Linked DNA regions of Homo sapiens: region 1 is linked to region 2. A link means that fine-mapping ties the variant in region 2 to the expression of a gene that starts in the linked region. Tissue or cell type: atrial appendage. Region 2 holds a variant in brackets; the other region holds the start of a gene. All regions are shown on one strand. Distances are from middle to middle.

What was found. PIP is the estimated chance that this variant, and not a neighbour inherited with it, causes the effect.
Region 1: CPE starts here. The variant in region 2 is fine-mapped to the expression of CPE in atrial appendage (GTEx, PIP 0.98).

Annotation. Positions count from the first base shown.
Region 1 is chr4:165,374,860-165,382,970 of GRCh38, forward strand. CPE (carboxypeptidase E) reads left to right here and starts at 4,149. Exons shown (of 9, transcript NM_001873.4): 1 at 4,149-4,669. The coding sequence starts at 4,363. RefSeq lists a silencer at 4,182-4,441 and an enhancer at 5,921-6,465.
Region 2 is chr4:165,412,597-165,420,707 of GRCh38, forward strand. All of the region lies in intron 1 of CPE (carboxypeptidase E), which reads left to right. Among named protein-coding and RNA genes, the nearest start is that of MIR578, 30 kb to the left of the region's middle. The variant A/G (reference allele first, on the strand shown) is at 4,587.

The DNA of each region.
Region 1 (8,111 bases), 38 kb before region 2:
CTAGGTCCTGATCCAGGTGTTCAGTCTTTTTCTTTTCTTTTCTTTTTTCTTTTCCTTTCTTTTCTTTTCAGCACTAGCAATCTCTTGCTCCCTCTGGTTCCCATGTCAGTCTCATCTGTGCTCCATATGAGATGAGATAGAAACTAGCTCTTCAGGGAGCTCACTGAAAGGCTCAGGACATTAGAGTCATGATCCACTCCTCCTTCTTTCCTGAAGGAGAGGCCTTAGTTCTATGCCTTCTACAGATCTCTCCGAGCCTTGCCAGCCATGGGAAGGTGCCCATTCTCCTAGCTTTCCCAGGCATCTGGACTATGCCATGTCTTTAAGCACTCTGTAAGAGGCACAACAGAAGCCAGCCCCTTGAGGGGTGTACTGAAAGGCCAGAAATGTTGGATGCTCACCCTACTCTCTATCCCCTGCCCTCCCTACACCAGGAAAGGATTGTAGTCTCTCTGGTGCTGAGTTGTACTCGCAGGTAAAGTGAAATAGCTTTTCTTATCTGTTTCAGTGTGGCTGATTGTGATTTTTTGTTTGTCTGGGGTACTGAAATTTCTTAACTTAATCCTGAACTTCTTATGAAGCTAATTTGTTACTTATATCACTGTTAAATCTGTGTTTCTGTTGGGAAATGAGGGCTGGAACTTCCTATTCTGCTATCTTGCTGACATCACTCTATCCTTGATGTTCTTGAGGTTATTTATGTCTATTGTATCTGTATGGGGGAGATGTATGTATTAGTGGTGGTTCTGGCTCAGAGTCTCTAATGTGGCTGTGGTAAACCTCAGATGTCAGAGATGGAGCCCTCTTGAGGCTCAGGTGGGGCTGAGATCTGCCCCTGCCCACCCACATGGTTGTTGACAGACCTCAGTTCTTAACTGAATGCTAGACCGAGGATGTCAGTTTCTCTCAGGCTGTTTGCCAGATGCCTCAGTTCCTTGCTATATAAGCCTCTCCACAATATGGCAGACAACTTCCCCAAGACAAGCGATGGAGTGATGGGGGACTGGGGGAAGGAAAGGAGGGAGAGAGAGAGGGAGAGGGGGAGGAGAGAGCGCACACACAAGCATGAGAGAGCAATTAAGATGGGAGCTGCAGTCTTTTTAATAACCTAATTTTGGAAGATCATCTCATTACTTTTGCTGTGTTATGTTCATGAGAAAACCACTAAGTCCTGCCTACACTCAGATGGAAGAAATTAAGTTTCATCACTTGCAAAGGAGGAGTATAAAGAATTGTCCCATCACAACACTATATGATGTCATGCTACTGCATATCTCTTCCTAACACTGTATTCAGTGATACAACATTGGTAGTTTGAAATCAGCCATGGTGGGAATATTTAAACCATGGAAATTAGCAAACATTCTAAGTCAGACTTTTCCCCCCAGACAGCTGACATTTACCAGCACACATCAGGATGAATATAGAGCTATGTGTTCACAAAATTTTTATGAAGTAGACGAATTTTAGGAAGGGCTTTGAAAGAAGGAAATAAAATATTATTGATAAAGAAAAAGATAGTTTCTTAATTTAAAGATAATAGAGGTGAAGCAAGAAGTGGAGGGAGACCTAGGGAGTTTAAATATGCTCTTATGGATGCCTATAATGACATGAAGAAAAAGCAGCTCTTTCTTTCTCTTTTTGTTTCTTGTGTGTGCATGTGTGCACATGATTTGAAATGGAGATTGCATACTAAATTTAACTATGTGTACACACATTAAAGACTTGGCATACAAGATTTTTCTTTAATCCAGCAATCAGGATGGGTATATAATCTTTTACATAATTGCCTATGAAGCCACAAACAAGTAATCCATACGCCAGTAAAGTTGATACAGCTGACCTATACCTAAAATAGCTCAGAAATTCAAAGACCAAATTTTAGTTCATTTGAACTGATGCCTTGGTGTATGTAGTACGACCAATAATATGTGAGGAGTGCCACCATTTATCAAATGAGCAGGAATTCACTTCAAAAAGAAAATTTCCAGAATCATAGCATTTTAGGTCTGAAAGAGACAGTGGGAAACCTACAGTACATTATTTCTCAAAATGTCTTTGTCAATCAAACATCAACATCAGAAATGACTGGTCTTCTTTTTAAAACCTAGAAGCTTGTTAATACCTGAAACCCACCCCAGACCTGATGAATTCATAGGGGCTTAAGAATCTGCACATTCTATAAACTCTCTACATGATTCTGTTGCAAGCAAACGTTAGAGAGTGAAAAATCCAAACCTTTTATTTTATAGATTAGGGAAACAAACAACTAAGCTGTAAAAGAGAACCCCCTGCCCAACAAGTGAGACCACATAGTAGGCATGATTTTACACATTACAATTTTTTTTTCTCCAAAATAAAATTTTTTAAATCCAGCAATCAGGGTGGATATATAATCTTTTGTATAATTGCCTATGAAGCCACAAACAAGTAATACATATGCCAGTAAAGTTGGTACAGCTGACCTACACCTAAAAATAGCCCAGAAATTCAAAGACCAAGTTTTCATTCCAAAATTTTTTATTTTGGAGAAAATAGAACGCATATCCTTTGTTCAAAGAGACAGCTAAGGAACAACACAGGACTTCAATGAAAAATATGTTGTTTATGTGTGTAGTTACTAGTCAGTATGCCCCACCTAGCCACAAATTAGTGTGGTTACTCTAAATTGCTAACATGAAAATCTTAACCTCCTACTTCTGAAGTTATTTGGTTTTAGCTACTCAATTTTTTTTTCTAGGCTTCCAAGGTTGCTGTTTTGGGCATGGTTTTAGAAATATAATTATAAGTTTGATTTCAAACTTCTGGACCATGTAATCAAGCACAGACTGGTCATAGTGGAAAATATACAATTTTTAGCTCTGCCTACATTGACAAAAAAAAAAATGGCTGGATCCACATCAATTCAACTTGAGTGCCATGTGTTTACAGTGACAGTTTCTCCCCGAAAACGCAAAAAAAAAAAAAAAAAAAAAAAGAAGATCCATGCTGCTGTAGTATATGTACATAGGGGTGTTTAAAGCCAGCCCCTCCAGCAGCACCTTACCAACCATGTCTGTGCTTTTATTTATTGATCCAATAAGATGACTTAAATATCTAACTCCTTTTCCACGTAAAAGTTTTTATTATGTGCAATGCATTGTTAAACAGGTGAAGAATGAACAAGTTTAGAAAAACAAAGAAGCTTAACATGGAAAATTACCCGCATGGTGTCCACTTTTCCTGCTCGGTTGCAATACCCAATGGATTATTTATTAATTTAGATTTGTGCTGTCCCTGAATCCAAACAGCAGCCTCTTTAGAGTAACATCTGCTCCAGACATTGCTCCAGGAATATAAATCCCGACTAAGGGGTGGATATTTAAAGCTGTAAATGATTTTTTATTTTTACAATAGCTTTGCAAAAGGAACGGAGGTGTCATGTCATCATCAGAGTTTTCTTAACAGGATTTAATCTTAATGCCAAACTAAATCCTTTGTCTAAAGCATCAGCAGAGTTGTACTTATTTTCCCCATAGTATTAAAGAGGAGGGCTGGTGCAGGCACAGCCATATGACATTGCCTTATTTATTTTGTCTGTTTGTTTTCTGGAAGAATCTAGGAATGTGCATAAATACAATTAAGGACAGTATCTACAAATTGGAAGAAAGCATTTCTATTCTCTTAAACCTCTAAATCAAAGCACTTAATGTTCTGATTTCCAGCAAGACCTTCTAATAAATGAAAACCCAACCCTTGGGTTTGTGTTTTGACTCTTGATACAATTATGAAAGACGCATCAGGAGATGGCAAGTGGCTGCCAGTACTTCCTTTTTTCTGGAATATTCTCTAATTCTTGGTGGATCAAGATGGAAACTGGTAGGCTTGGAATAGATGTCCCTTTAAAAGGCTCCACTAACAATACAAGAATATTTTTTCCATACGCAGTGACGTGGGTGGGTCATGGGTGTCTCAATGACAGTAACGTTCCCGAACCCCGGACCTTAGCTGTCATTTCACCTGCGTCGTCCCGGACGCCATTTGGCTGTTGACGTGGTTCCGAGCCAGCAAATAACGCCAGCAGCCCTCCCAGATCCACGCCGGCCCGTCTCTCCGCCGGCCCCCTCCTCGCAGTGGTTTCTCCTGCAGCTCCCCTGGGCTCCGCGGCCAGTAGTGCAGCCCGTGGAGCCGCGGCTTTGCCCGTCTCCTCTGGGTGGCCCCAGTGCGCGGGCTGACACTCATTCAGCCGGGGAAGGTGAGGCGAGTAGAGGCTGGTGCGGAACTTGCCGCCCCCAGCAGCGCCGGCGGGCTAAGCCCAGGGCCGGGCAGACAAAAGAGGCCGCCCGCGTAGGAAGGCACGGCCGGCGGCGGCGGAGCGCAGCGATGGCCGGGCGAGGGGGCAGCGCGCTGCTGGCTCTGTGCGGGGCACTGGCTGCCTGCGGGTGGCTCCTGGGCGCCGAAGCCCAGGAGCCCGGGGCGCCCGCGGCGGGCATGAGGCGGCGCCGGCGGCTGCAGCAAGAGGACGGCATCTCCTTCGAGTACCACCGCTACCCCGAGCTGCGCGAGGCGCTCGTGTCCGTGTGGCTGCAGTGCACCGCCATCAGCAGGATTTACACGGTGGGGCGCAGCTTCGAGGGCCGGGAGCTCCTGGTCATCGAGCTGTCCGACAACCCTGGCGTCCATGAGCCTGGTAAGGGCGCTGCCCCCTGACAGCCCTGGGGGCATCCCGGAGGGGGGCGGCAGAGGGTGGGACTGGTGGCGGTGGGGGAAGGAGGGAGGGATGGGCCCAGGGGTGCCTCTTGGTAAAAGGTATCTAAGGTGGAAGGTGGGAAGTGGAGGGAGGGATGGAAATGGGGAAGAACCCGACTTAGAGCGCCAGTGGCCCAATTTCTGCTTTCCCGTCCCATCCCCCCAGCACCAATCCCATCTCCCCAGACCTTAGGCCACCCTCTAGTAAGTATAGGCTTGGGAGGCTGGGGTGGCGGGGGATGGGGGGGATAGCAATACAGAAAAAACAAATCCTGACGCACGCAACCCCAGCGGTCGCTCTCACTTTGCTGTGTGAAAAACCCAAAGGAATGATTGCGAGTCCCCCGCAAGGGGGGTTGGTCTTCCTTGCTGACAAGAGTAGAAAGATAAGGTGCAGAAGGCAGTGATTGAGAGGAAAGGAGAACGAGGGAGAAAGAGTCATTTATCATGTTTTCTCTAATTTCCAGAGGACCAGTTTATTGGCTCTGTGTACCCATCTCTACCTGTGTGTGTATACGTATTAGGTACACTCGCTGCTGTGGATGCTTGGGGAATCTTAGGGATATTGCCAATCTGGGGTGGTGGTGTATAAAGATACGTTGGTGCCCCTCCTCCTACCAGGGTGAAAAGTGGTTTCTGACTTTTGAAACCAGATTTTGAAACTGCACAAGGCCTTTCCAAGGAAAAAGGAGTATTCCATTTTCTCTGCTATAACCATTTGAGATGAATAGTTTGTGATGGGGTCTTTATTCCAACTGATGTTCCCAAATAACCATCTGTATTCGTCTTTCCTAGGAGTATATTAAAGCACCTTTTGGTTTATGTTAATTGTGATGCATTTAGTATTAATAAAGAGGTATTTAAAAATGTTCTTGGGACTTTTTTCGTTATGTTTCTGCTTAGGAAATAATTTGGGCCTGGTCTTCTGATAATCAAGGTACAGCTAAAGTAATCTGTGCTAATAATATCAGCATGGGATGGATGCTTAATTTTTGTTTAATGACAAAGCAAGCAAGAAAAGTAGGCTAAAAATTCTCAGTGCAGGGCCAGTATAGTTTTATAATGATACGTAAGAACCAAACTGAGAAGAGATTAAAATAAGTGATCAATAGACATTTTGATCTTCAAATATATAGTAGGTGGGTTGATCAAGAATAAATCTTCAGGAAATATTTCTTACCTTCAAATAATATAAGAAAAAAAGGTTCATGTAAGTTTGCTGTCAAAATTCTAAGATCAGATCCTAGAAAACATTTAATATTAACTACTCTTATCTACCAGGATTCAGCATGTAGGATTGGACATTTTGAAACTTAGTTTCATACTGTTATCTGAAGACAGGGAAAAATTTAAAATGTGATAACTGATTTTCAGCTAAATCCAATAACCAAAGCCAAGATATCCTAGGCACAGTTAAAGCTAATGTAAGTATTTGTGAGTCTCCTGCTGCTTACTTAATGAGAACCCTTTGTTACTCTATTTTGTAGATTGATCCCAGAGTTTTTTGCGTTGTTACTTCAAGAGATTATATGAAAGCTAATGTTTAACTTTTTGTTGTTTCAAATTTGGAAATAAAATTTTAAAGTGATATTACAGTTAGAATGTGATATGCTTTAGAAAATGAAAACAATGATTTCTTTGCTTAAGTATCTGGAATATATAGTTCATCAAGGTTTGCAAATCCTTCTTTTAGATTGCAAGCTGTATGAAGTGGGGACCCTGATTCCAGCACCCAGCTCATGTTTGGCACACAGCGGGCTTGAATATACATTATGAAATAATCTACATTATGGAAAAATACTGAATATGCAGTGTGGAAAAAATGAATCCATCAATAGCTGCATAACACAGTGTATTAAAATAAAATGTTTTATTCTTCATACATTCAAAATACGTTGATTGAATTCCTCTTACAGAGACAAACTCGGAAGTGTTGTACAATATGTACTTTACAATTCCTTTTTAAATGAAGGAGACTCTAAGTCTATGGTATTACTAATAGAATACAAAATGTCTGTGTCCCTTATATTTTTAAAAGTAGAAATAAACTATTATAAACCAACACTAACAAAAGTACAAGGTGATATCCCCCTCCATCACCTTTTATGAGCGTCAAGGAGGTTAGAGATCTTCAGGAAACTAGTAAATATAGAGATCTGATCAGTATACAAGTTTGATGGTGCTTGTGTGAATTAACTTTAAGGAAGTTTGGAAAAAGGAAAATGTTCACCATTCTTAAATGGCCTTTCAGTTTCTTTTAGGTTAAACTATTTTAAGAAGTAAAAAGGAATACTTATTCTGAGGTACAAGTGGGCTCATTCAGTGTTTTTTTTGAGCACCTGTATACTCAAGGTGGACCAGGCGTCTGTGAGTTGTGCCTCTGCACAACCCATAGAAGATAACACAGAAGATAGTCGCTTGCCCTGAGGGCAATAGAGAATTGGGAGCTTGAAGAACAGCATAAAGGGATGTGAGGCTGCAAGATCGGCTTTGGGAGGACTGGAGAAAAAGACAGTAAGGTCAGCAGGTCAGGGAGACTGGATTATTGAAGAATTGATGACAAAAGACAGTAGGTCAGCAGGTCAGGGAGACTGGATTATTGAAGAATTGATGACAAAAGACAGTAGGTCAGCAGGTCAGGGAGACTGGATTATTGAAGAATTGATGACAAAAGACAGGAAATGTACAGTTTGTTGACATTTACAAATTCCAAAATAGCTGGTATAGATATCTGTCTTCACTAGGACCCCTGCTTTTGAAAAAGGGCCAATTGTCTTTACTATTTTCACCTTTTAAGTACCTTATTTTTTGGTTTGAAATAACCTTTCTGATTCAGCTTTAGGAAATAATATTGAACTTAAGAAATGTGTTTACTTGACTGAAATTTTGAGGTGAAATTGCTCACTTTTGTTTTATTTTCCAGCAAGAGAGGTGTCAGATTTGTTGATTAGTTTTCTTAATCTAGATTCTTTTCCTGAACATTAAAAAAACAGTGGATTTCTAAGGATTTAGTTGTCGTAACAGAAGAACTCCAAGAAAATACAACAACATACCCACAAAAAGCCCTTTCTTGTGGTAGAATAAGCAAGCTAGAGGTTTACTTTGTTAGACTAGCAGTTTTTGGACAGAGATGTTTGTTGATACAATTAGCTCTCTTCCTGAGCAGAAAGAAGTGATCTTTATACATGCTTGGTACAGGACATGGGGTGTAGTTGAGGTTATCTCCTGAAAATGACTTTCTTTGCAAGATGTTCAACTTTTGAATTCATCAAAAGGCAAAGCAAATTCCATTTTGAATTGGTCATTGAGGAATAGCCAAACCTATTCTGTGATGACATCTTAGGAATCAGCTTGATTGTTGACCAGCTGAATGTTGGGTCTCA
Region 2 (8,111 bases):
ATCCAGACTCCAATTCCAGATCCTGTGCTCTTGGCACCACTCAGTCCTGTCTCAGGCAGGCAGCATTGCCACTGTGCACTTTATCCTAAAAACAACCCTCTGAGGGAGGTGAGAAAGGTATGTTTCTTCACATTTAAAAAATATGAACATGTTTAAAAAGTAAACAGTGATCTATTTACATCTGTATGCTGGGAAGAAGTTCTAGAGTCATCATCTTCACCTCTTCAATGCTTCAGTCATTGGCTTCCCAGCCTCTAAGCAGCCATGTATTCCATTTCTTTTTGCACCGTTATAACCAGTGATTTTCTCGAATCCAAAATCTGTAACGTTCCTCTGCTTAATTCCCTGCAGGTGCTCACTGTTACACCTAGAATCAAACCCAGACTTCTTCGCATGCGCTTGAGATTCTTCTGGCTGGGTCCCTGCACACCTCTGCAGTGTCACACTTGCACTCTCTGAGCCCTAGCTCTACAGGGCTTTTCTCATTTTAACAAAACTTGCTCTTTCTTGTCTCTCACATGTTGTATATGCCAGTTCCCTGGCCTCAACATTCTTTTCTTCCCCTCTTCCCTCTTACTCTACCCTTCTTAAGTGGCTATTCTTGTCCCTTCTTTTCATCTCTACCTTGATGCCATGTCTCTATAGTGTGTTGTAATTGCATGTCCAACGCCACTTTTCCTGAGTCCACGGGCCTGGAAACCATGTGATGCTGGGTCCAAAGTGAAGAATTGGGGGATAGAGAACGGGAATCTTGTTCACACAGTTCTCTCCAGTACCCAGCATGGTGACCCAGAACATGTACATGTAAGGCATTTGTACATGTAATTAATTAGCAGGCATGTTTTGAACACCAGCTTCATTAGGAGTGATGCCATATTTGAGGCAGAAACATAGTATGATGGAGAATTCAAGAGGCTTTGGACTCATAGCTCTTAGCTGAATTCTGGCTTTATCAGTACTACCTTTGAGGCTTTAAGCAAGTTACTTAACTTTTCTGAGCTTACTTTCTCAAATAAAAAGCAAGGATAACTAAAATGCTTTGGAAACTTTCCTGTGAGAAATTGATGTGTAAATAGATAATTAAGGGACATGCTAGGAGTTGTGTTACAGGCATGAACAGGAACACAGAGGAGGGGACAACCAACACAGCTCAAGAGGTCACAGAAGATGTCATGTAAGCCTTTTCTTTTTCTCAGAGCCTCTGGCATTGACGTGCTTGGAGATACCTGAAAATTGGGCAGCTGTTTATCTTTCTGGAAATGTTTAGTCAAAGGTCTTCTGAGCATGGAGATACAGGAAGTGATCTTCCATTCATGCATATTTATGATTCTATTCTAAGTTAAATTATTAATAGCATTTGACGAGTATTCTATTTTGATATGGACAAGAAAAATCGTTCACTTTGAAACATTTATTGAGCTCGCTTATAGCACACTGGGAAAAAAAGTCTTGGTTTTGTTATTTTTCTCAAAAGATTTGTATGTATTTTCCTGCAATAATAAACCAAAAATAAAATCCATGAAGGATCTAGAACTTTTAAGGCTATGTAATTCATATTTTAAGCCTTTACTGTTTCATAAATTATTTAAATAATTTGAGGAATTACTATTGAAGAGAGTCTTAATCTGTCAAATTGATCAGATTGGATTTATCTTGAAAACAGTTCTGCATCTTTGGATAAAAATCTATTTTATTCCAAAGAAAGCTTTTTTTATGGCAAATAAAAGCAAAGGTATACATTTTTAATAATCTTATGATAAATAGGATGATCTGCTTTAAAGAAGAGTAAGTTTATAGAGTCAGAGTATACTTGTACACACCTCAAAGTCAAACGTTTGAAAAATGAAGTTTGTTATGATTCTAAGTGTAGTTTCGAATGTAAGAAAAAGTTAAAAGTGTGATGCAGTCAGGAAGCTTGGAATATTCTCCTGCATAAATTATATGTGTTAACAGCCTTAGCAGTATTCTCTTGTAGGCCACTTGGCTCCATCTTAAAGTAGTTTGATGAATATTGACTGGTCTGCAAAATTTGACTTAAGAAATGTTGAGCCAAAGTATCCTGGATAACGTAGATATAGAGATAAAGTAATATATATATATACACACACACACACATACACACACACACATATTTACATATATACACATATGTACTTATTTACAGTGTATATAAAAAATAATTTAGAAGAATGCATCCAGAAACCAAATTGAGCTTGAAAAGTACCACCTCACATGACCGCAGGGACAGCTGGTTATTGTCTTAGGATATATTTGCATTTTGAAGTGAACTTTAGTGACATTACAAAATGCCAGATTGGAAAAACAGCCATTATTTAAAAAAAAAAACAAAATATAATTAGCACCAGATGAATGAGTTGTCTCATAATCACCTCATTATTACAAATTAATTCCAAATGAATATGTTTGAACAGGGCATTGGTTTTGAATCTTTAATTTATCTCCTCCTTAGCCTTGCTGCTGACAAATCATAAATAGATATAATTAATGAAAATGTTAATAGTGCCGGTCTCCAGAATATCTCTAGATCACTGACCTTCTGATTGGTGGAAAAACCTTTGGAGAATGATCTTTACAGGATTCCATGGCAGTGAGTTAATCTATTTTTCTCTACATGGGGGCAGCAGACGAGGTGAGTTTCTTCCTCTGTCATTTGTAGGATCTACTGTTATTCTCTGGAGAGCTATTGTGTCAGAACGGATTTGGATTATTTTTTAAAACTACTGCTACCTAGAGGGTAATTTTATTAAATTCCTTTATCATTTGGATTAAATACAGCAAAATGAAACCAGCTCCTCCTGCTCAGAGGAGCTGTCACCACAATCTTTAATATTTTCTTAGCATTATTTCCTTTAAAGTATGCTTTGGGACAATTAATAATGACTAATACTTAAATTTTCACTATGAGTAAAAGCTTTTTGGTAAACATTTATTATATATTCCATGTCTTCCTTTTATTCTCTAATTATTTCACCTATTCACCTAATTATTTTGTAGCTCAAGTGTATAATTTAAATGATGTAGAAATATAGAGATCAAAATTAATACAAATACATTTATATAGTGATGTGTTACATGTTATATTTGTCACAAATATAGCATATATTTGTTTGTCTAGTACATATATAGTATATACAGTACATATATATTACATACATACATATAGTACATATTTGTGTAGTACACAGGTATAGTGCATATATATATATATTTGTCACATATATAGAAGTCCTGTGTCTTCCTTTTAGGTAACATGGGAGAATGTAAGTTTTTGTTTTCGGTCCAAGAATGACACAGATTTTTTTGTTTGTTTAGTTAGTTTTCTTTAGGATCTAGATCCCCCAGAGGTAAACACTAAATATAAAACCGGGAATTAGAAGCTGGCCTTGGGTTCTGCAGTTCTAGGCATGGCGTTAACGTTTTTCTTAAAACTTAAGGCCCAGACTACACAAGGAATCTTCCCGCCTGCACTCCCCTGCCAGCTCAGCTACTTCCCTACTCCTGCGCCAACTCAACCGTAACAGTAGCTGAGACGAAAGCATTGCTCTGAAGTAAGGTGTAGGGAAGCTTTCTGGCTTCCTTAATAAAGTTACACACGATCTTCTAAGCTTGGCGATGGAGGGAGAAGGCACATGGGAGGGTCTTCACCGATCCTCTGGCCCTGACTCTGCCTACCCTTCATTCATTCACCTGCCCCTCTGGGGGCTCTGGGCGGTGACCACTGCCACTATTGGGCTAGCTAGTGGTGGGGGCACTGCTCCCCTTAATGCTCTGGCCCCTAGGGGAGACACAAAATATTGTTTTAAATTTCCAGTAGTGTAGCTCATGGCAGGCTGAGGCACTTACACAAAAGGGTGCTGGAGGCTTTAGGGTAACACAGTAGAAATCATCAAAGGGAGAATATGCGGTAGACAATTTAGGCTCTTCAACATAACTTGCTTGATCTCCAGAGGCCCCAAACTCTGCTCATGCCAGGCTTTGCACATGCCGTTTCCTCTGCTTGGACTGGTCTTCCCCATCATTGCCTGGCTATCTTCTTCTCAATTACTAGATTTCACAGTAGGGGTTCCGCCTTCTTGATTCCCCCGGCCTGGGTTATATAGGTTTGTCCTAGATAGTGCGGTGGCCCCACATATGCCTCCTCATCAACCTGTTTTACAGTTGTTTATCCTGTTAGGCCATAAGCTCAGTGGCACCAGGGACCTTCTCTGTCTCTCTCAGCACTGTATTCTCATCAGCTTGGACAGTGCCTGGCACACAGTGGGGACTCAGAAAATATTTTCGAATGTGTCAATGAGTCCATGAATGAATGGAATTTGGTAAAAAAGAGAATTCTGACCTCCAGCTTCTCTTTATCTTATGAGATGCTTTCTTCACTGTAATCTTGCAGGACTGGAGTTAGGTTTTATTTAGAAAGCTGGCAGGTTTATTTACAAAAGATGCAAATAAACCACTGGGCTTAGGGGACAGAAAGAAAGAGCCATTTTCTTAGACTAGAAAATAATATGGAATGGATTAGGGGGCAGAAGAAGGAATGGGTGAGTGGGGTGGAGGAATGGCAACAGATA[A/G]GATGTTGATGGTTATAAAAATTGGGAAACTGTCCAATTCTCCTTAGTTTAGACTTTAAAAAAAATGAGTAAATTTCCTAGAAGTCAAGTGTAGCCATATGAAAATATTTGGACTAAGTTAAATATAATTCCCTTGGTATTATTGAATTGCCTTTGACTTGGAGACAGAGCTATTCATTATAGAGCAGTTTCTAAGAGCCTGGGCTTCACAGAGATTATCTCTTTTCATTCAACAATGTAATGAAGTAGGAATTATACTTCTATTTTACAGATGAAGAAATAGACTCAGAGAGTTTAATTGACTTTAGGATTGTAAAACTACAAACAGTAGAACTGGCAGCCATTCATTCATTCCACAAATATTTATTGGCAGTATTTTTTTTTTTTATCATTAGCTTTGTCTTTTTTGATGGTAGAAAATGCATTTCATTTAGAACTATGATTTTAGCCCAGAGAAAGTGATGTAGAAAAAAGCACTAAGTTAACTAGATCATATCAGTATAAATGTGAAGCCTCACCATTTTACTCATCCAAAAGTGTCTAGGGCCTTAAGTTCAGTTCCTTTTATTACAACTTTAATATTTTGTCTGTCTTAAAAAAAAAAAAAAGACATTAAATCTCCAGCCCCTGGTATCGTGCTTGGAACATGGTGGGTACTTAATAAATAATTTGTAGTGAATGGGAAAATTGAGAACCATTAGTCATTTTCTATTCAGTATTAACAAAGTCTGACTTACTTTTTTGTTTTTGTTCTGTGTGGGCACATTTCACTGAGTGCAACTTATGAAGGACCTCAAGATCAAATTCATGTCGTACTCTTGGAATTGAATTCTGACAGGTGGACTGAGAGTTTTTTGTCCTCTAAGCCTTCATTCTAAGACAGATGACACCAATGTAGGTAGTTATTCAGAATAATAGACTCAGGAATTTAATAAGGGTGTTGTTTAAAACGCAAATATCACCAACCAGTGGTAAAGCAAACACATTCTGTGTGAATGAGTACAGCCCACTGATTGACATTCAAGACCCATTGGAAAAATCAGGAGACACAAGAGTGGGAAGAGTGCAGATTGGAGCAGCTATCCAAAAATACAGAAGGCCAGAAGGTGGTGAGAAAAATGTCAGACAACAGATTGTGGAGAAAAATAAACAAGCCAAGAAAAGTCCTATTTGGCCTTAAAAGAGGCAGATGGTGACAGGAAGTGTTCAGTGAGGAGTGATTGTGCTGAAAATCACAAAGTCTATAAAATTATCCATCTGTAGTTTGAGGTTTTTGGGGAAAATTAAAACTCTTTGCTAGCATTACAGGGAAGGGTGATAGCACACAAACAGAATATTAAGTAAGTGTGTATTTGTGTCAGGATAATAGAAATGAGAGATGCGTTATTCCATTAGAATAGAAGTTTTGTTTACTTAGAGATTGTGACCAAAATTATAAAACGTGTTTTGTTTTGCATAAAAGCAGTTGAACTTGTATTAAATCTGTTCTTTCCACATTTTTGATGTAAGTAAGAATTCTCCCAAGAATGTTAATAGATTGCTAAGGTAGCAATGATAATTTTCTAACTGAAGGAATGTACTAAACATTTTTTTCCATTAGAGAGTTTTTTTGGAATGGGATATAGAAAATGACAAATCACAATGCTAACTTTAAAGCAAAGAATTTTAATTTGAAAGTTGAGAAAATATAGCAGGGAAAACTAATCATTTGGAATAGTATGAGATAATTTGAAAAAAATATTATAAATATTTTAAGATAGATGTGGTTGAACATTTAGAATTGGGAATCATTTTTTGATAGTTTGGGACCTAGTTTTCTGTGCTTACATTTTAATTCAGTACTACTTACTCCGTGGTCTTCTGGTGGTGTGCAACTTGAGGAATCAAATAAGCCAGGGTTTTTACAACTCTTTTCTAGGTCATTAAAGCATTTCTGCTATGTGCCTGAATATGTCTTTGATTTCATGCATAAGAAATATTAGATGCTTCATTCTCCTTCTTTAGAAGAAATACTAACTGAATATGTTGGATTCTTCTCTATTTTTATTGTTTCTCTCTTAGATTTTTAACCACAGTTGCTCAAGTCTAAGTTTTGTATTTTAAGTTTAGACGTGTAAAGTAAAAGGCTGGGAGCTGAGTGTGTGGTGATGCTTCCTCCTTTTCCCTTGAGAACTGAAGGCAAAAAATTAAATTTATTATAAAAATTTGTTTTACTTTTAAAGATGTGATTTTCCAGACAGAGAAACAAACTCATGTATCGGTGTATTTTTTAATGAATTAGAAGCATGAAATCTAGGTACTTTATGTAAGTCATTTTATTTAATCCTCAAAATAATGTTTTAAAATAGTTATTATTTTCATTCTCATTTTATAATTGGGGAAATGTAAGATCATCAAAACCAAGTTTCAGTTTCCTAAAGTCACACACCTAATAGCAGAGTCAGGATTTGAACTCAATTCCGTGTCTTTCAATGGCAGAAGGGGTTTTGCACATTAGATTACATAAGCCATTGTCCATTGACTCCTTGTCCTTTGCACTTGTCCAAGAGTGGTCCCCAGGCACAAACATGCATGTGAAGAAAGCTCCAGAAGAGATTCTGATTCAAATCTCCAGTTGGGAACTAATACATCAAACATTTCAAAAATCAATCAACCAACCAATCAACCCAGCCTTTATTGTATGGTGGTATTTAAAAATCTAAACTCTATTTTCTGCAAGTTGCTAGCCAATTGAACCAAACTTCTTCACTGGATAATATTTTTAAACATAGATTTAGAATGCCTTTTTTTCAAATATGAAAATAAAAGATATAATAGCTTATTTCTGTGATATATGCATACATAATTGCTTCCCACCTAATTTTTTTTTCACTTTTGTAGCCTTATATGTGTGACTGTCTTAATATCTCAAAGGGCTAGTGCTATCCTCACCCTTATTCTTAGATTTTATCTCTTTAATTATTTTCTTTGCTTTGTTATTCCCACCAGTTTGTCTTCTAGAAGGTCTTCATATCATGTTATCACTTAATAAACATTCTCTTTTTTATTCTGAGTGAAAATGCACCAAAGTATAAATCTGAGAAAAAGTGAATGTTTTATAACTTTTGTTTCTCAGAAAATTATAGCAGTTATGTTAATATTGGTGATATACTTCTCATTGTAGTCATTCCTATGCTAGCAATATTTTTATTGCTACTGTGGATAAATTATTTCATTATATTTTTAACTTGTTATTGTTGGAGTAAAACAACTATTTATTTTTCATATAAATATTTTGTTTTTGGCCTTTTTGCTGAACTCTGAATTCTAATGGCTGTCCAGTTTGTTTATTTATTTCTTTATTTTATCATCTCCATTTTACAGGTGATGTCTAGTTTATTTTTTCTGTTTTTTTTCTGAGTGTACTATATAAATTGTATACAGTGTTGGTACTTTATATTTTTAAGTTTATATATCGTAATTTATTCCTATGCATAATTGAATAGTAGAGAATTTCTAGTATACTGTTACATAGTATGTCTTTTC